Linked DNA regions of Homo sapiens: region 1 is linked to region 2. Evidence: fine-mapped expression QTL. A gene starts in region 2. The other region holds a variant in brackets. All regions are shown on one strand. Distances are from middle to middle. Region 1 holds the start of LOC105371848 (a long non-coding RNA gene). Region 2 holds the start of HEATR6 (HEAT repeat containing 6).

Region 1 (10,613 bases), 64 kb after region 2:
GATGGGAGCACACTGGCAGAGCCCTCGCGTGCTATAGGGCAAGGCCGGCAGGTCTGTACTCAGCCTCAGCCCCAGGGGAGCTGCAACATAGACTGAGACCCTCACATGTTTGGCTCTGTGTCCCCACCCAAAACTCATCTGGGATTGTAATCCTCCTGTGTCAAGGGAGGAATCTGGTGGGAGGAGATTGGATTTGGGGACAGTTTCCCCCGTGCTGCTCCCCGGATAGTGAGGTAGTTCTCAGGAGAGCTGATAGTTTCAAAGTGTGGCACTTACTGGTTCTCCACTCACTCCCTCCTGCCGTCTTGTGAAGAAGGTGCCTGCTTCCCCTTCCCCTTCTGCCATGATTGTAAGTTTCCGGAACTGCAAGTCAATTAAGCCTGTTTCCTTTATAAATTACCCAATCTCAGGTATTTCTTTACATCAGTGTGAAAACAAATGAATACAGTCCCCTTCCCTGAGGTGCCTTCCCCTTAGGCAACCAGCTGCCCCCATGCTCCTCTTCTGCCCCCTGGTATTTCCTTTCCCCTCATGAGGCCCAAGTGATCCACATGGCCAGCCCCAGCCCCATCCTACTGCAGGCCTGTGTGGCTGCTGGAGAGGCCAGGCTCCTTTCCGCACCCCGAGGCTGCCCGATATGCTTTCTGGATCCTGTAGAAAACTGACCCACTATTCTCATACCGGTGCAACTTCTTCCAATACCTCAAAACTGGACAACGTGAACTTATCTTGTTGCTTGTCTCTTCTTGCTAGGGCTGTCATTGGGACAGTCCGAGATGGGGGGGTGGGGGGAGACAATGGATGAATGGATGGATGAATGGACAGTAGTCCAGGGAGATGTCCCTGTGTGTCCTGAACTGGGCCCTTCCTCCAATGAGAAGCCTTCCTGAGTGAGTTTCTACAGTCATCCCTTGGTATCCATGGATTAGTTCTAGGGTCCCCGGGGATGACAAAATCCATGGATCCTCAAGTCTCTGACATAACATGGCCTAGTATTTACATATCAGCTATGCACATCCTCCTGTAGACATTAGACCATCTCTAGATTATTCAGGATGTGTAATACAATGCAGATGCTACATAAATGGTCATGATACTGTATTCTTTAGGGAATAATGACAAGAACAAAGTCTGCACATGTTCAATAGAAATATAACCATCCAATTTATTTTCTGAATATTTTCCATCTGCTGTTGCTGAATCTACAGATGCAGAGCTCCTGGATATGAGAGCCAAGTGTGCTTTGAGAGTAGGGTGGGTGAGGTTGCTAATGAGTACAGGGGGACAGGTGTTGATCAGGAGGACCCTGCACTGGGGCATCTGGACGTCCTGCCTCAGGACTTGAGACTCCAGTTGGATGGCACAGGCAGACTCGGCACAGGCAGACTCAGCCCAGGTCAAAGCCGTCCCCTTGAAGTTTCATTTTATCCCAAGCTCTTTCTGGACCCTGGAATTTGGCATCCCCTAGGCCCTGCGTGGAAGGACAGATGAATCAGGTTTTAGATAACATGTCTAGAAGAGTGAGCCCCTACTGTGTGCCCGGCACTTTCCTCACAGGATCCTCTAGCTAGAATATCCAAGGGTCATGGAGAGAAATACCCAGTTAAAATATCAGAAATGAAAAAGCGATACCATTAGAGACACTAAAAAGACCATTAGGTAATAGTATTAGCTTTTGTATTCTGAGATCCAGCAGCAGCAGCAGTCACTTCCCTCCACCCCTATGTGTATCCCAGGACCACCCTGGGCAGGGAGGGCTGAGGTTAGGGAGCAGCCATGGATGCTCTGATGCTGGCCCTGGGCGCTCTGATGCTGGCCCTGGGCCTCGGGGGTGACAGTGATGAGGAACTGGGTGCACACATGAGTGGGGCAGCCGGGCCTGGCCAGAGAAGCAACACACATGTGCACAGACATGTTTAGCCACATACACGTGTGCACGCACGTGCACAAACACATTGCAGGCAGGCATGTTGACGCCTCAGGCAGCGGAGGACCCTGACTCTGGGCGCTGCTGACCCGGGCAAGGCCCCATTGTGATGCGTGCCATGACCTCAGAATGTCACTGGTGCTTAGCACCTATCCGCTCTCTGGCCTGCCTCAGTGTTCTACGGCAGTTACACACAGGCAGTGGTATCTGTGAGCAGCTCTGTGGACTCAAAGGTTTTCTCCCTGAGAGGCATGACCCAGGCCAGCTGATTCATCAGAGTCAGGTGAGCGTGACCTGCTCTCTTCCCTCCAGGCGGACTTGGAGACAGTGGCTACGGTGCGGGCGGTGTTGGCCTCTGTGGGGCAGCTACCGAGGAGGGTCATCCCTGAGCACTCACCAGGCGCCCGTTCTACACTGCCCGTGTAGACGATTGGCTCTTTCGTCTCCATGGTGGCTTCGTAGAGTGGGTGCTGTTCCCAAATGTAACCATTCGACAGATGAGACGTCTGGGGTCAGAGAGGCAGTAACCGGCCTGGGAATCCGGACATGACCCTGAGTTTTGCTCTCAGCCCTGCCGTGTGCTGTGCTGGAATTCAGGCCTGAACCCTGTGACCTCCCTGCCCTAGATCCCAAATCTGCCCAGGTTTCCGATCCCGATGGGGCAGAGCCTGGTCCTGGCAGAGCCACTGGTACAGATCCACTGGTACAGATCCACTGGTATAGATCCACTGACGGTCCTCAGAACACCTCTGTGCCCTAAGCTGGGTCCCGATGGTCGCTGTGGGCCCCACTGAACACACATGGTCCCTTGTCCGGGGGAGCCTGCTGCCCTTGGGCAGCTGTGGAAAATGAAGGAGCCCTGGAGGGCTGGCTGAGGGGAGACTATCTTCCCTTCTGTTCAAAGGGGTCCGGGCACTAGGGTTCTCCCCAGGCATTTCTTGCTCTGTGTGGTCCTCTTGAGGCCTCGCCCTCCTTTTGCCTCGAGTATTCCCAGGAGGGACGGTCCATCCAGGTGTTCTCCAGGACCAAGGACCCACTGTTCTTCCTCAGTGACCCAGGAAAATGAAGCCTCCTCCTGTTGGGACGGCTCAGAATGGTGGACTCCACAGTCCCTCCGCAAGAGACGTGGTTTCCATGCGTACAATAGATCTTTCTCATCCCCCAAACCGAACACCCTCCTGCTCAACAGGCGTTATTCCTGAAGTGGCTTCACTGTTCAGACTGAAGAGCCACGGTAGCCAAAGTGATGAGCGGAGTAGAACCGAGCAGTCAGGAGAGATCTTGTTCCCTGTAGGAAACTGGGCATCTCTGAGGCCCTGAGCATCCCAGGAGGCCGATTGTACAGAGACCTCTGGTCGCTGACCCCAGTCTGCCTCCACATCCCTGGAATAGCCCATCATGGGCCCTTCACCCTTGGCAGGTGGAAACCATTCAACCTGCTGGGGCCGGTGTGTCCCCATTTCATGGCACTGGGGGACAACAGGATTCTCTGTCTAGGTCCCACTGTACTCAAGTCCTTGGGAAGATGCCCACCCCTGCTTGGGACTTGAGACTCCAGAGACTCGAGCAGCTGTGGGCCACTGGGTCTGGCCCCTTTTTCCCTGGGGGCGGCGGTGGAATGGGGGTTACGCAGCCAGCCAGCATCTGGGAGCCCGGCGAGAGCGGTTCAGGTGTTCTCCGAAGCCGCCGCGTACAGTGTAACCTTTAGACAATTTTGTCTCACAGGATGGACGTGGTAGAGGTCGCGGGTAGTTGGTGGGCACAAGAGCGAGAGGACATCATTATGAAATACGAAAAGGTACAAGTCGGTCTGCTTCTTGGAGGGAGGCCTCTTCCAGTGTGCCCTGGTCAAAGGGTCCTGGGCTCCCTAGGAGCACAGGGCAGGGACGGGTGGCCAATGCCCCCAGGCCCTTGCACCCTTTACCTTGGACCCCTCACCAAGGCTCCCTCTGGGCTACAGGGACACCGAGCTGGGCTGCCAGAGGACAAGGGGCCTAAGTCTTTTGGAAGCTACAACAACAACGTCGATCATTTGGGGATTGTACAGTGAGTCCTCTGCACTCCCCTCACCCCTAAAGCACCTGTCTCAGCTCAGGGATGGGTTTGCTTTTAGAAAGGCCTTTCTGATGCAGGACATGTCTCACCAGGTCGGGTCAACCTCCTTTCCAGGGACAGAACTCCTCCCTGACTCCCCTGCAGGTCCAGCCCGAGGTTGTTGTTAGGCCAGAGGTGTGGGGCCCATCTAGGGAGCTGGTGGGAATGGAGACTGGGCTAGGTCAGGCCCCTGGGCGCTCAGCAGTTCTGTCGGCAAGTGAGCACAAGAGGAGCTGGGCAGCCTGAGGGTCTGGCCCTGTCTACTTGGAGACAACCCCGGTGAGATGCAAGGGTTATGGCCACAGGGTGAGGGGACGCCTGGCCCGGCCTCAGGGCTGTTGTCCAGCAGGTCTCTGAGGGCCCACCTGCCCCTGTTCTCCCCCATGCCCCTAGAGCTATGGCCCTCACTGTCCCGTGAGGGGAAAAGGCATGGTGACAATGGGGGCTGTAGCCCTAGGAGAACGGGGGGAAGATGGGCAGGGCCCCGTTCTGGGCATCTCACGGTGAGGCCGGGGAGGCAGCAGGGCTCGCGGCTAAAGACCTGGGTCTGGTGCTGGGAAGGGATCTGGGGCCGGGTAAGAGGAGCCCAGCCAGGAGCCCATCCCTCAGGGATCACAGGATGGAGAGACAGAGGATCCCAGGGGAGGTAGGGCGGGAGGGAGCTGATGAGCCGTGCCACTTCTGAAACGCAGGGTGTGTGGCTCGGGTGCAGGGAGAGGCAGGTGGATGCTGGGAGGTCAGAACCTGCAAGGGCCTTGGGGCTGTCAAGTGGGATGGGCCCCTGGTGCACCCAGAGTACACGGGGCAGGTCTCAGGGCAGGCTCCCTTGACCCTGGCGGGGTGATGTGGTCACTCCCTGAGGGACTCCTGTCAGGGCCCGGTCACCCACCCTGGGCGGCCCCCATCCCATCTCAGGGCTAACCTTTCTCAGCTCCAGCAGAAAGCACCACCTCGAGTCCAGGACGGGCAGCCCCACTGGGCAGCCTGACCGCCCCCCACGCCAGGGGCCCCAGTAACCCCGGCCAGGCTGTCCCTACACTCCTTCTTCTCCCAGGTCCTGCCCCTCCTGGGAGTCAGCCCCACAGGAAGGCCCTTGTCCTCCCTTCCCTGTGCCTTCTCCTGGGCTGAGCCCTGAGCTGGAAAGGGACAGAGCCAGTCCTTTCTGGGGGCCGGCACCCAGGCTGGGGCC[G/A]CTCCAGGCCCCGTGCAGTTCCTCAGCTCTGCCTGGGTTGCCTTACAGTGAGACGGAGCTGCCTCCTCTGACTGCGCGGGAGGTGAAGGTAAGAGCCTGATGCATGGAGGGGCTGGTCCAGGGACGTAGGGACTGGGCGGGTGGTCAGTGAGGCAGAGGAAGCAGCTGGCCTGAGCGGTGGCGGGTGAGGGCAACGCGCTGTCACTGGGAGGGGCAGCAGTCCCTGCTGGACCTGACCCCAGGTTGCTGTTAACTTTGGCAGTTTGATAAAATTCCAAAAGGAGAACCACAGTCCTGGCTTGGGGGTGGCTGCGCGCTTGTGTCAGGATCCCACCTAGAGGCTGGGACCTAAGACTGGTGTGGCTGTGGCCTGAGGATGGTACATCCCGGGGTCCCAAAGCCAGCCCACTGGTGCTCATTTGCTCAAAGGCTCTCAGCCCTTGAGGTCTGCCCTTCCCTGGCTCCTTCCAGCTGGCTCCCACCAGGGCTCCAGAGCCCAAGACCCAGCATCCGCGGGCGGCTCTGGGAAGCCTGGCAGCTCCGCTAACTCCAACATGCCTCATTTGACAGCAAATTCGGCGGGAGATCAGCCGAAAGAGCAAGTGGGTGAAAATGCTGGGAGAATGGGACACCTACAAAAACAGCAGAAAGGTAATGTGTGGAGGGAGGAAGCACTCTCTGCAGAGACAGGGGACAGGCACCCATGGCTGTGGCCTGGCGCCGTCAGCCTCTCAGAGGGTGGGTGGCACGCTGTCCTCGCCCAGAGGACTGCAGGCCTGGTCGCCAGATTTCCTGCCTATTCGTGCAAGCGTCACCTTGCTGGGAGGGAATCTGAATCTAGGGCTGGGACTACCCGGAGCTCAAGGCTAGGGATGCCCTGGTGACCTGAAGGAAGGAAAAGGTTCAGATCAGAGTTTCGACTCTGAGTGTCCATCCACTCTTTCAGTCCTGGGAAGGGAGACCCTGTCCCAGCTTGATCTCACCTCTACTGAGGAATCATGGGGCCAAAACCAACAATTTCCAGAATCCCCGGGCTCTGGTCCTCACTGGGGTCACCCCGTGGCCTGCGACACCAGATTGTTTTCTGCCCACAGCTCATAGATCGAGCGTACCAGGGAATTCCCATGAACATCCGGGGCCCGATGTGGTCAGTCCTCCTGAACATTGAGGAAATCAAGTTGAAAAACCCCGGAAGATACCAGGTACGCTCAGCCAGAGCACAACCAACAGGACAGGCCGTGTCAGGGGCCCAGGTCTCCAGCTGGAGGGAACGTCAAGACCACCCTGGGGAGCTGGGGGTGAAGGTCAGATGAACACCCTGGGCACAGATGGTGACACAGTCACCACAGACAAACTCAGCTCTGGTGACCCTCCCTGGCTTCAGTAACAAGCCAAAATGCAGCTTTCTGCAGAAGGAAACCTTCCTTCTGTCCTTCCTTCCCGAAGTGCTGACTGTGGGCTGACTGCCACTGGGGGCAGGGAGTCTTCCATCTGTTCTGAGACTGCTTCCTCCTCTTGGCCCTGCCCTACAGATCATGAAGGAGAAGGGCAAGAGGTCATCTGAACACATCCAGCAGATGGACCTGGACGTAAGCGGGACATTAAGGAGGCATATATTCTTCAGGGATCGATACGGAACCAAGTAAGCCACAGGGTCCCAGCAGAGATGGGGTGAATGAGAGGGATGGGGGCTTCCCCGGAGCAGAAGCCAGGGTCACCCAGGAGGGATGACACAGCTGCCAAGAGCTCTCCTGGCCCAGGGAGCAGCCGGCACCATGAACCGAGCACCTCCCTGGTTCCAAGCCCTGGGCCAGACTGGAACATGTGGGGCCAGAACCCAGGAGGATCCTGAGGAGATGGAAGGCAGCAAACAAAATCATGCACAATGGTGAAAGGTGCTCTCCCTGACCCATGGGGACCCATGGTAGGAGCCACGGGAGGGTGGCAGGATAGAGGGCACCAAATGCTGGGAGAATTAGGGGTCCTGGAAACTCTCATCCAGGTCTGCTGGGAACATGACATGGCACAGCCACGTTGGCAGCCAGTTGGGCAGTGGCTCACAAAGCTCGATGGACTTGAACCACGCATCCCCAAAGTGTCACAGAGATTGAACCCACTGATTTGGAAACTGACATCCACATGAAACCTGCATGCCAGGTTCACTGCTTGACTCCTCGTCACTCACACACGGAGCCTTCGGGGACGGCCTTCAACACGGGAATGGGGAGAGCAAGGCTGGTCCTCCCTTCAAACGGAAGACCCAGTGAGAAAAGGGAACGAGCCAGTGATGCCCGCACGAACGTGGGTGGATCCTAGATGCATTTTGCTGAGGGACAGAAGCCAGACCCAATAAGCTACCACAGTAGGATTCCCATTCCTAGGCCATTCTGGAAAAGGCCAAACCACAGGGACTGAGAAGCAGTCTGGGTGGCCAGGGGCTGACGGATCGGGGAGAGGCTGGGTGCATAGGGGCCACCCTGGAGACTTGGAGGATGAAGGAGTCGCCCCAGGAGGGGCTGGAGCGGTGGCCGGGAGACTCTGCACATTGGTTTGGAACCGTGGAGGAACTGTACACCCACAGACTGAACTGGGGTGTGTGCAAACTGAAAAAAAAAAAAAAAATCATTCAGAGTGAAAAGGATCAGGCACTGTACAACTGGGCTATTTGCATGTCACAGATGTGGATTTTACTGAAACATTTCTTCAAGAGTCTCAGGCCCTGAAGAGCTCACTGCTTATCCGGTGAATCATCTGAACCTGAAATGGGATTTGCTGTTAGGCTTTGTAGACAAAGTGAAATTAACAACATCTGCACAAAACAAACCAAAGCCCCCTTTCTCTGTTTCCTAGGCAGCGGGAACTACTTTACATCCTCCTGGCGTATGAGGAGTATAACCCGGTGAGTATTCCCGGCAGTGAGGTTCCCGGGCCATATTTCCATATTCACAGGAGTGGGTGTCTGGTGGGGGTGTCGTTGCTTCTTTTAAAATTAGTATTTGTGACCCACCAGGATATAGGAAGTAGGATGTCAGCTCACTGCTGGCATAAACCTCCAAGGAAGGGGGTGGTCTCAAGGGGTCAAGCTGATACACAAAGGAGTCAGGGCCTGGACTCCTGGTGTCACCTGGGCCTGACCACCACTTCTCAGAACAAGAAATGACGCCGTCCTCCTGGGGCTGCCCCAAAGCCCAGGAGCTTGGCAGCATCGCACACAGGATGGTGCTATCAGCAGACATTTTGGACAAGGTGCTGAAGTGCCTGATGGACTTGGCTCTTGTCATGAAATGAATGTGCATCCTGAGGAAGCCTCTTTTTCAGAGGAAGCCTCTCCTTCAGAGGAAGCCTCTCCAGTCACCTCTGCCCTCTCCAATGACATGAGTCCTCCCAGGTGAGCTCAGCCCTCCCAGCTGATGTCCTTCCATGGTGACTCTGGCTCTTGCAGGAGGTGGGCTACTGCAGGGACCTGAGCCACATCGCCGCCTTGTTCCTCCTTTATCTTCCTGAGGAGGATGCATTCTGGGCACTGGTGCAGCTGCTGGCCAGTGAGAGGCACTCCCTGCAGGGTAAGTGAACAGCTGCCCCGGGGACCTCCTGCAGCCAGACCTGGGGATGGCCACCCTGGCCAGGTGATCACAGCTTTCAGCCAAGGCACCCTCCTTGTGTCACCAGCTTGTTGGGAGACTTTAGGATGTCTCTGCTGAGGGTCCCACAGGAGTCCACGGCTGACCCCCAAAGCCCAAATCAGACGCCTCTCATCCCCATCAGCAGAGGGCATCTCATCCTCCCCGTGGCCACCCTCTGTGTCCTGGAGCCACGCCCTCCGGCTCTGATTCTGTGCAGCTGACTCTCCCCCTCCCTGAGAGTCCTCCTGCCCTCCAGCTGCCCGGGCTCCTGCTGCCATCGGTGCCCACGAATGGGCCGACCAAGCCCAGGTGGCAGCATCTCCCCATCCCCTGTTCCCTGGCCCGACCCCACTACCAGGAGATGACCAGGAAGCCCAGCACCCACCCAGTTCCAGCCGCCCTGTGGTGGCCTGAAAGTCAGGCTTGCCCTTTTTGCACCCTGGCCCAGGAGGCCTCCAGGGGAACCTCCAGCCAGGCTCCAGGGACTGTTCCCGCCCCACCTCCCCAGGGTAAAGGCCGCATGTTGGGGTCACCAGATGGGAGGGTGGGAGGCCTTGGGGTTTGGGGGCCTCTCCAGCTGCCCAGCTCTTGCAGCTGATGGCTCCACATCTTGGGGGAAGGCTCTGATTTCACGATGGGCTGGGGGCTTCTCAGGATTTCACAGCCCAAATGGCGGGACCGTCCAGGGGCTCCAAGACCAACAGGAGCATGTGGTAGCCACGTCACTACCCAACACCATGTGGCATCAGGTGAGTTTATGGTCCCCTCAGCTCTTCCCAGAGGCCCTGCCTCCCGTGGGGCTGTAGGAGCAGGGGGGCTGGAGCCCCTCGTGGGGCTGGTGACTGGCTGAGTCCCAGCCAGGGCCTGACCTGGGACGTCGGGTTCTCCATGGGCTGGGAGTTGGTTTCCTTTCCTGCCCTGGAGGAGACAGAGGCACAGGGATGGGGGCCCAGCTCCCGCAGAGCAGGGCAAAGGGCAGCGTGTCCACCGGGAGTGTGGGAAGGTGACAGTGTTGTGGGGAGCTCTGGACACCGCCCAGTGTTCTGCACTAGGGGAAGGGTCTTCAGAGGCCCTGGAAGAGGGAGGTTTTTAGGGCAGCCCAGTGGCCTGAGCACCTCTGTTGCTTCCATCAGGACAAGAAAGATCTATGTGGGCAGTGTTCGTCCTTAGGCTGCCTCATCCGGATATTGATTGACGGGGTAAGGAGGCATAGGGAGACCCTGGCTCAGGGACCCTCCTTGCCCTGCAGTGCCCTGCTTCCCCAGCCCGGGGGTCTGGCTCACTCCCAGCCCACAGGAGGCTCAGGCGGGTCCCCAAAGGACACACAAGCAAAACCCTCTGCCCAAGAGGGGTCATCCCAGGGCAATGGCTGGGGCTCAGGCCCAGCCTCATGGGCAGACTGGGCCAGGACCCGACTTGAGAGGGCTCAGGGAAGCCTCAAGCCCTGGGCAAGCCCCTCTCTCCAGGAGCCACATCCCCACTCAAATGAGTGCCTCCCATGAGGAGCTTCAAGACCTTGTCTGACCCAGCGTCCTGGAGGGCTCAGGCGACCCTCATGGGGAAGGAAGGTCACTGACTCAGGAGACTGAAGCCCCAGTGTGCGCAGCTCGAGCCACCAGCCCCAGCCTGGAAGGACCAGGTTCTTTCACACCTGCTGTCCCCACAGATCTCTCTCGGGCTCACCCTGCGCCTGTGGGACGTGTATCTGGTAGAAGGCGAACAGGCGTTGATGCCGATAACAAGAATCGCCTTTAAGGTTCAGTAGAGTAAGTCTACGTGT
Region 2 (10,613 bases):
ATCACACATAATCCCCCACCCCAAAACAATGTCTGCTTAACACTTTGGTGCATATTTTAAACATACACAAATATGTAATATTTATATAAAAATGAGATAATCATGTGCCTATTTTTATTTTTTATTTCACTTAAAAGTAGCTACCAAACAACTTTTAATGTCAATACTAATGCTTCTATCCCATCATCTTTGATAACCTATAGAAGTTCATCAGCTATGCTCAGATACTTAGCAACCTTTAGTAATACATGTTTAAGATATTTCTTATTTTGATATTATGAATATGATTGTAACAAATACTAAATTGGCATACACACACTTATTAACTTCCTTGGGACAAATTCTAAGATGTAAAATTGATGACTAAAGAGTATGTTCATTGGTCGGGCCCGGTGGCTCACACCTGTAATCCCAGCACTTTGGGAGGCTGAGGCGGGCGGATCACGAGGTCAGGAGATCGAGACTATAATGGCTAACATGGTGAAACCCTGCCTCTACTAAAAATACAAAAAAAATTAGCCAGATGTGGTGGGGGCACCTGTAGTCCCAGATACTCAGGAGGCCGAGCCAGGAGAATGGCGTGAACCTGGGAGGTGGAGCTTGCAGTGAGCCGAGATCGCACCACTGCACACCAGCCTGGGCAACAGAGGGAGACTCCATCTCAAAAAATAAAAATAAAAATAAAAATAAAGAGTATGTTCATTTTAACCCTGTGATGTACATTGCCATGTTGACTTATGAGAACCCCTTTTCTGTGAAAATATCTCAGGGGCCTCACAGGATAATTTATTTGTTTTCAGTAGCCATTAGTTGAAAAATGCATAATAAAAAGCTACCAGTTTTGATTATAAACTAAGTTGCACTAAACACAACAGAATCAGCATACACTTTAAATAAAAACCCTTTGTGTTCAGAATGTATTGTTTGGCCAATCCACCTGCAATCCTTGGACTGCTTAGGGCCTGGCTGGCTCTTTGCAGGTGTGATTGATTTCCCAAATTGGGAACTGTTGCCTCTTGATTGTATTCTGTGGATCCAGGTCCCCAAAACAGCAGGTCTCGGGCAAAATTTTTTTTGTCTTTTTCTCAGATGAAGAGTTATCTTAAGGATCATCTTTCCCTAAGATCGTCATCCCTTCCTGGAGTTCCTATCTTCCAAGATGTGACTGTCTGGAGTTCCTTGACTAGGAAGATGGATGAAAACAGCAAGCCTGTGGATGGAGACTACAGGGGATATGGGAGGCAGGGAAGAGGGGTTGTTTCTTTTAATAAATCATCATTGTTAAAAGCACTCATACTATTTGAGTTATTTGGTTAAAGGTGAGGAGGAGGGGGAGGAGGACAGATGACATTTGTTGCGTACTGACTATCAACAAGGACCATGTTAAATTCTCCCCAGGCATTATCTAAGTAACCTTAACAACCTTTTGACTGCACTTCTTATCATTACCATTTGAGGACACTGAGGTTTGGGGCAGAGTCATATAGCAGGTAAGTGTCAGGGCCTAAACTATAATCTCATGTCGAACGCCATATAAGTCCTATGCATTATAGCATGGTGGTCAGGAGCCCTGACTCTGAATTTCAAACCCAGGCACACCACACAGCCATGTGGCCTTCAGTGAGAGTCTTCATCTTTCTGTGATTCGACTCATATATATAATAGTACCTCATGAAACTACAAAGATTAAAGAGGGTCACATAAAGTGCTGACACATAGAAAGCATTCAGTAAGTGTTAACTACAATGATTATTAACACAGTAGTACCCCTAATCCACGGGGGATATGTTTCAAGACCCCCAGTGAATGCACAAAACCGTGGATCGTATCAAACTCTACATATACTGCCGTGGATAGTATCAAACTCTCTATATATGTGTTCTGTCCTATAAATACATCCTTATGATAAAGTAAATTTATAAATTAGGCACAGTAAGAGATTAACAATAACTAATAATAAAATAGAACAAATATAACAATATGCCAGCATCACTACTCTTATGCTTTGAGACCACTAAGCAAAATAAAGGTTACTTGAACACAAGCACTGGGACAGTGGATCTCATAACTGAGATGGTTATTAAGTGACTAACGGGTGGGTAGCATATAAAGCGTGGATATGCTTGACTAAGGGATGATTCACATTCCAGGCAGAATGAAGTGGGATGGCGCAAGATTTCATCACGCTACTCAGAACAGCAGCAAGTTGAAATGTATGAATTGTTTATTTCTGGAAATTTCCATTTCGTTTTTTTTTTCTTTTTTTTTTGGACGGAGTTTTACTTTGGTCACCCAGGCTGGAGTGCAATGGTGTGATCTCGGCTCACTGCAATCTCTGCCTCCCAGGTTCAAGTGATTCTCCTGCCTCAGCCTCCCAAGTAGCTGGGATTACAGGCGTGTGCCAACACGTCCGGCTAATTTTTGTATTTTTAGTAGAGATGGAGTTTCACCATGTTGGTCAGCTGGTGTCGAGTTCCTGACCTCCAGTGAGCAGCCCGTCTCGGACTCCCAAAGTGCTGGGATTACAGGCATGAGACACTGCGCCCAGCGCATTTCATATTTTCATACTGTGATTGACCACGGGTAATTGAAAAGGCTGAAAGTGAAACTACTGATAAGGGGGGACTCCTATGTAATCACATAGATAGGCTGATGACCCTGAAACAGAACTCAAGGCCAATCCTCCTTCCTAGCCTCTCCTGGTTCAAAGTGTAATCTGGATACCGAAATCAAGCTCCTGTCTTCTGGTTTTCCCCATTACAAAATGTGGGAGGTAAAAAACAATGGGTTTATAATTTCTTGTCTATGTTCTTCACAATCACAGCCAGCCTGGGCTGCAATCTGATTTCAACCAATTTGCTGCCTGTGCAGCCTTGACCAACCATTTATACTCTTCGGCACCATTTTCCCAACTATAAAAGGGGGAAATAATATCTACCTCATTTGATACTAAGACTTATAAAACTTTATAGTTTACAAAGCATTTTCACAAAAATCCCATTCGATTTTCACATCAACCGGTGGCAAATAGGGGACCCTGAATAAAAAATTAGTGAATTCATTCATTCTGTTAACAAATATTGTGGGGCATCTACCACATCCCAGGGGCTGTGCTAGCCCTGGGATACAACAGCGAATGAGACAAACGGGAACTGTGCCTTCATAAAGTTAATATTCTAGAGGGGAAAACAGATGATAAAGTCATCAAATAAACAAGATAACTGCAGGTTATGGTAAATTTTCCGAAGGAAATAATCAAAGATGTGAATTAGAGTGAAGTGGGGGTATGCAAGCCTACGTGAGTTAGGATGACCCAGACGCTCATGAAGGGATAAAAGTGAAGTCTTGAGAGGTTTCCACACATGAAAGGAGTGAAATTCCACTGAGGTTCCAGATCATCCGATGCAGAATCTAACAAAGGAAATGGCTGTGAACGTGCTTAGCACCCCTTAAAGCCCCTCAGTCACTGCAGGACTATGAAAATGCAGAGAATTGAGGAGGAGACAGAAGATTTTCTTGGAAGAGAGCTTTTGCCATGCTGTGTTTCCACAGTTTCAGGGTGGGAGGTGGGAGCAGGAGTGCTACTGTCTAAACTCAAGCCAATGCAGGGTGCCTTCAAAGGCCTCCCTCAGAGCTTGAGATACGTTTCCTTCAGTTGGTGATCACTGCAGAGTAGGGATGTCCATTTCCTTAAAGGAACCACACTGATCCAAAACAGTATATTCTACCAGAACTGAACAGACCGGCATCAGTATACTGTATTTTACAATTCCTGGGCCATTCCACCCTGAATAACACAATATGTAGGTCATCCATATTGCAACTTAAAGTGAACCACACCAAACCCAGATCCTTTCCAGTCTCTTCGAACGTGCATTGTGGAAATGACCAGGCCTCACATCCTTCTAGCCCAATGTGTAAGACAGCTCTTTAGTACTACTTCACATACTCTTGGTCTTACATTCTTACTCTAGCCATTGCTACAGCAACTAGTTTATCACAGGCATCTACTAGCTTAGCACAGGTATAACTGGTGAGAGCCTTGCCTCAGATATGCACCTAGTTTCCTCACTTTTGCCTCAGGGCTTCTTTGACTATGCAACATAGGACTCCTCCAGGAACCAAGCACAGATGCATGCTCAACACAGGAACACCAGTGAATTAATGCCTTGTGGTCAACTTTTGACAATAGACTTCAAAAGCTGACAGATAAATGCTTTTCCTCTCTGTTCCTCAGAAGAAGGGTTTTGAGAGCTTCACAAGGCTTCTCAGAAACTCCTGAGGACTGAACAATCAGTCACCCCTTGCAATGGCCAACTCAATAGCACATATTGGTATTAATTCTCCTTCCTTCCCTGTTCATTTCTGGATAAATCCCTCACCTATCAACCTCATCTGAGGCTCTGCTATCAGGGAACCCAGATTAAAATATCCAACGACTAGGTTTCAGCTCCTGATCTTCTCTGAACAAATGCTTGAATACATTTCTTTACACGAATACACACACACACATGCACATATATAACGCACATATGTACACAGACTAGGAATAAGAAATAATATACCAGCACAACGGAATCTAAATCCAAACAAAAAAATTAACATTTCTCCCCAAGCCCAAAGTCTTCAGAAAACTACCTCTGCTAAAGCATACCCCCAATTTTCACTGCTGAACAGAAATGTTTTGTTCTCAGGATAAAACATACATTCAGGTGACTTCAAGGTTTTCCCTAAGGGCCAAGGGTGAGGATTTGCTTTATATTTGCATAACTCAAAGGCCCTAGAGATGGTTTTCCCAATCTGCCCAACTGTGAAAGTCAAGCCTTCACTTCCTGGATGACTGAAAAGTGATCACAGATTTTTAAATGGCCATTTTATTCTCCAGCTTCTTGACTTCAAGGTTTCAGAAAATCTTGGGGTGTCTCATTTCAACCCGGTCACTCTTAGGCAGATTATATTTTACATGATTCAGTTAAACTCCAAAATTACTCTTCTAGTGGGGCGAGGTGCCTCATGATCCATGAGAGGATTCACACTGGGAAAAAGGGAGAAAAAGGAACCAAGAGTACAGCCAGCTGTCACTTAAGTAGGGAAAGCTGCCTTATATTCCACTGACCAGATTGCAATCACAGAGCCACAGCCAACTGCAAGGAATGCTAGGGAACGTAGCCTTTATTCCGGGTGGTTTTGTGCCTGGGGAAAGATTTTAGAAGAGTAGAAGGGTGCCTTAGAACTAGCGGTTTCTGCTACTGCCATCCACAGCATACCCTCTCCAACTCCAGCCCGAATCTGAAACTCTAGTACGGAACAGAGTACCTTCAGCCCTGTCCAGGAACAAACTCTGGGAGGACAAACTTTCTGGAAGCACAAATTGAGAACTCACTTTTCAGTCAGGGCTCAAGAAGGAGTGGCCGGCGAAAAATCTCCAAGCCAATTTCTTTCTTTTTTTTTTTTTCTGAGACGGAGTCTCGCTCTGTCGCCCAGGCTGGAGTGCAGTGGCGCGATCTTGGCTCATTGCAAGCCCTGCCTCCCGGGTTCACGCCATTCTCCTGCCTCAGCCTCCCGAGTAGCTGGGACAACAGGCGCCCGCCACCACTCCCGGCTAATTTTTTTTTTTTTTTTTTTTTTGTATTTTTAGTAGAGACGGGGTTTCACCGTGTTAGCTAGGATGGTCTCGATCTTCTGACCTCGTGATCCGCCCGCCTCGGCCTCCCAAAGTGCTGGGATTACAGGCGTCAGCCACCGAGCCCGGCCTCCAAGCCAATTTCTGACAAGCATCTGCAGGGTACCGGTCGGAGGAGTCCCGTAGTCATGGAAACCCCTCTGAGCCCCAGTCCGGTCTAAAAAAGGTACTTTCGGAACTAGAGCGCGCGGAACGGGAGGATGTCCCGGAAGTATTTCCCTGGGATCACCCCACCCACCCCCCCCGCCCGTAGAAAAGATGGCTGCTGTGCAAGTTGTCGGTTCGTGGCCTTCCGTGCAGCCGCGGGAGGCACCGCGGGAAGCAATCCCTGAGCGAGGCAATGGGTTTCGCCTCTTGTCTGCCAGGCTCTGCGCCCTGCGCCCGGATGACAGCAGCTCCGCCCGCACCGAGATCCACCTGCTCTTCGATCAGCTCATCTCCGAGAACTACAGCGAGGGCAGTGGCGTGGCCCCGGAGGTAGGCGGCGCGCCCTGCTGGCCCCGGCCCCGGCCCCACCCCTCCGGGAACCCAGCTGGTGGCCTCTGCCTGCCTTTCCCTGATCTTCCCACTCTCGCGCCTGATGATTTAGTTTCAGGATGGCGTGCCCCCTCCAACCTTGGCACATTCTTAGTTCTCCATTTGGAAGACCCTGCAGTGCTTGGCACGCTCGAGTCATTCAAAACCCAACTTGACGACTCCTGCTCTGATAATGCCTCGGGTTTCCTCTCTGATACCAACTTTCCATCCGCCCGCACCCTCCTTCACTCCCTCTCTGTGCACCCAGAACACTTGGTTGACAAAATGCATTACTACTGTTTATTGCGTACATGGTACACGGACCACGTGGGAATCTTAGAACTTGCGTAGTATTAGGGCTTGTTTGCTAATGAAAATACTGAAGCTCGTAAAAATACAGTATACAAAACTCTGCCACAAAGCCCCTATGTTTTCTGTTCCTACACACTAGCTCCTCCCCTCTGCCGTCTTTCTGAGTAATCTTACACACATCAGGCCTTAAATTAATGAATTCTCTGAACTGTTGACACCATGGCCTTCTGGCCCTACGTAGGAAAGAGGGAAGTGGTGCAAGTTGCCTGCTTGCACAGGCATCTCAAACTAGACAGTTCCTAAAGATGAAATTCATTAGCTCCAAACACGCATTCCCGTCCCCAGTCCATCCCACCTTCCAACACACATGCATCATCCACCAAGTCACACCAGACACAAACACTGGTTCTTCCCTCCTTCATCCCAGATCCTGACCAACTCAGGTATTTCAGAATGTGTCTCATATATATTTCTCAGTTCATCCCCTCCTGTCTATTCCCATAGCGAGTGCCTTAGACCTCAGGCAAGGCGACTTATGCCTGGACTGTTCGCTGATCCCCTCTGACTGATCTCCTGCCTCCTGTCTAGCTCCTCTCCAAGCCAGTCATTCCTCCAATGCCAGAATGATCTTTTCTTTAGGAGGAAAAAAAATTGTTCATAAACTTTAAAATCTGCTTTGGAAAAGTCTTCAATACGTATTGGTAAATGGTTGAAGCAAGTTGCAGGACAATTCATACAGAATGAGATCAGTATGAAGCTGGAGGAGGGATTTTAAAATATGTGTGTTTATATATGCAAAGTAAAAGGTCTGAAAGAATTGACTACAGAATAATAGTGTATGTCATTAGGAAGCAGAGTGAGATTAAGGCAGTAGTCGGGGACTTTTGCTGTATTTGTGTAATTGGATACTTTTGCAACAAAACTTCCATTCTCTCCTGTTACTCCCCCTTTTGTTCCTGTGTGCAGCCATTTAAAACTTGCTGTTCTTCAGGCACCTACTAGTGTTTCACACCTCCAGGTTTTTGCATACTCTGTCCACTTTGCTTGCAGTGTTTTTTGATGCCCTATCTGGCAAATTTCTCCTCATCCTTCAAATCATTCCAGATTCTGCTTTACAGTCACCTCCACAAGGCCTCCCTAATTACTGTTTCTGGACAGAGTTTGTACTTTATTCTTTCAGCACTTGATTCACCTTATTTTAATTATTTGTTGTGTTTCTTTCTCTCTCACTAGTTTGTGAGCTCTTTGAGGTTCAGGAACATGTTTGTTTTACCTTTGGAGCCCAAAGACCTAGCACACTATGACACATAGTAGGTGCTCAGAACCTTGTCATTCTATAAACATCGATGGATGAAGAGTGTGACTTGCAAATAGGTCCCTCTTTTTTTTTTTTTTTTTTTAAGAATTCCCTAATTATGCATAAAATCCATAGAAGTGTTAGGTCTGATTTTTCCCAATGGCATTGAAAATCTGGTTCACTTACCTTTTGATATTTTTAGCTTCAGTTTGTGCTTTCATACCCTAGAAGCCTTTTTCTGGTTATTTAATTATACTGTCTTTACATATAGAGAGCACAGAGTCTTCAGCCTGACCAAAACCGTACTGATTCTTTTCCTTTTTTTTTCTTTTTTCTTTTTTTTAAGAGACAAGGTCTCACTCTGTCATCCAGACTGGAGTGCAGCAGCAAGATCATAGCTCACTGTGACCTAAAACTCCTGGGCTCAAGCCATCCTCCCACCTCAGCCTCCCAAGAAGCTGGGACTACATACCACCATATCCAGCTAATTTTTTTAAAAAAGTTTTTTCTGTAGAGATGGAGTCTCACTATGTTGCCCAAGCTGGTCTTGGACTCCTGGGCTCAAGCAGTCCTCCCGCTTTGACCTCCGGAAGAACTGGGATTAGGTGTGAGCCACTGTGCCTGGCTTTTTCCTTCTTTTTTAGCACATGCTGTTTTTGTGCTATCACTTCATTTTTTTCCTTCCTGCCTCACATTTTCTTTCCCCATTTTGAATGTGAATATTTACTTTTATTTTCCCATTTGGCTGTGTTTTGAGGATCTTCACTTGACTAATAAGTATTTTACCTCTTATCTTTTTTTTTTTGGTAGGACGTTAGTGCTCTTCTTGTCCAGGCTTGCCGACTGGTACCTCTTAATCAGAATCATCTTGTCAGCAAAGTGAGCCAGCTTATCCACCATTTACTTAACAGATTACAGGTAATCATGTATGTAACTCTAGAATTCAGATCATGAACTTTGAGAGTAAGTAAATACCTTTGAAATACTACATCTGTAGTAGGTATGATAGGCTGTTTTTTGAGATGCTATAGGAAAAGCAAATGCCTAAATAAGAATGCTTTTAAAGCAAATATAACTCTGATCCAAAAAAATTATTCTGTAGAATTCTAGAAGTTTGTTTATTAGAAGTATGCCTTTCTGTTTGGTTCAGTAAACCAATATCATTCAGGCCCCCCAACCTTATAATTTCTTTTTTTTTTTTTTTTTTGAGACAGAGTTTCACACTGTTGCCCAGGCTGGAGTGTGGCGCGATCTCAGCTCACAGCAAGCTCCGCCTCCCGAGTTTACACCATTCTTCTGCCTCAGCCTCCCAAGTAGCTGGGACTACAGGCACCCGCCACCACGTCCGGCTAATTTATAATTTCTTATGGAAGATATATTTGAACAAAATATATCTAAGAATAAATTGAAATAATCCCCTGCCTCTTTCCCACCAATATTTTTCCCCTTTCCTGAAGCTACCATTTTTATGGTCTACTTTTGATGCTTCTAAAATATAAGAAGTAGCTTGGGGCCAAGGGGACAGCAGGATAAAAAGACCCCAGTTATTTATTTAAGACTGTTACCACATGAGTATGTGAATATATTTAAGAGCACAAAACATATCAACTAGCATTATGTGAATTAGGATGCTTTTGGCTGCAATAAGCAGAAAAGCCATCCCAGAGTCACTAAACAATTTTTAAAAAAATAAAAAGGAATCACTCCATGTCCCAAGTCCCAAGGGACGCATCTGTAGCCCCTTAATAATAAGAGGCTCATCTTTCCCTTCACCGTCCTCAGCATGTGGGTTATCCTCAGCTAGCATGTCTCACAGTCATAAGATGGCTGTGCCAATTCTGGACATCCCATGCCAAAGAAATGATTACTGTTCAGCAGAAGCTAATTAACTTTATTTTATGTTGTGTCTCTTGTACTTAACAGTAAGGAAACGTGTCCCATGAACTCTCTAGTAGACTCCCCAATATCTTGCTGGAGAGACTTAGGTCATATAAATACCTCTCTAAACCAGTCTTTAAGCAGGAGGATGGTCTTATTGTGAATGGCTCCAGCTAGTAGTTTCAACCTTCACTACACATTAGAATCACTTGGAGGAGGACTTAAGCTCCCTTGATGCTTACAATGTGCAGCCACAGTTAGCCTACATCAGGGTTTCTCAACCTCAGCACTATTGATATTTTGGCTCAGATCATTGTTTTAGGGGCTGTCTTGCACATTGTGGAATGTTTAGCAGCATCCTTGGCCTCTACCCACTAGACGCCAGTAGCACCTCTCCAATTGTGACAGTCAAAAATGTATACAGGCATTGCCAAATGTTCCTTGGGGGTTAAGGTTGCCCCAGGTTGCCCCACTCTCTTAAACTAATTAGCGTTTACCCTTAGGTCTCACATGGGAGAGGTGGACATCCAATTAAATTAGTACTCTGCCAGCAGGGAAGGAAGAAATGGATGCTAGTAGGTAACCAACAGTGTCTGCTGCATGGAGTAAGGCTGTTTTCAGTTTAGAATCTTTGAAACTAACATGAGGTAGCTTCTGTATGTTTACTATTCTCAGGTGTATCATCTTTGTAACACTGGCAATTGGAGATGTTCCTGATCACCTGTGGCACCTATAACCCTTTACCAGCTTTCCAGCACTTGGTGACAGTTTGTCTCAATTGTCCATAAATTGACACTTGGATTAGCCTGGTCTGTCCCAACAAGATTATCAGCTCCTTGACAGCAGGGATATGCCCTCTCTTCATGGTGTATTCCTCATGTCATGTTAGAGATGCAGTAGGTATTTAGCAGTTATATTGGTTCACTG

Evidence for each region.
Region 1: its variant is fine-mapped to the expression of HEATR6 in whole blood (TOPMed, PIP 0.99).

Annotation. Positions count from the first base shown.
Region 1 is chr17:60,010,539-60,021,151 of GRCh38, reverse strand. LOC105371848 (a long non-coding RNA gene) reads right to left here and starts at 2,006. Exons shown (of 2, transcript XR_007065868.1): 1 at 1,929-2,006; 2 at 1,141-1,471. It also overlaps the pseudogene TBC1D3P1-DHX40P1 and the pseudogene TBC1D3P1. RefSeq lists an enhancer at 10,095-10,594. The variant G/A (reference allele first, on the strand shown) is at 5,211.
Region 2 is chr17:60,074,243-60,084,855 of GRCh38, reverse strand. HEATR6 (HEAT repeat containing 6) reads left to right here and starts at 5,935. Exons shown (of 20, transcript NM_022070.5): 1 at 5,935-6,160; 2 at 8,619-8,726. The coding sequence starts at 5,942. HEATR6-DT (HEATR6 divergent transcript) reads right to left here and starts at 5,547. Exons shown (of 2, transcript NR_135648.1): 1 at 5,384-5,547. It also overlaps the pseudogene WFDC21P. RefSeq lists a silencer at 6,149-6,278.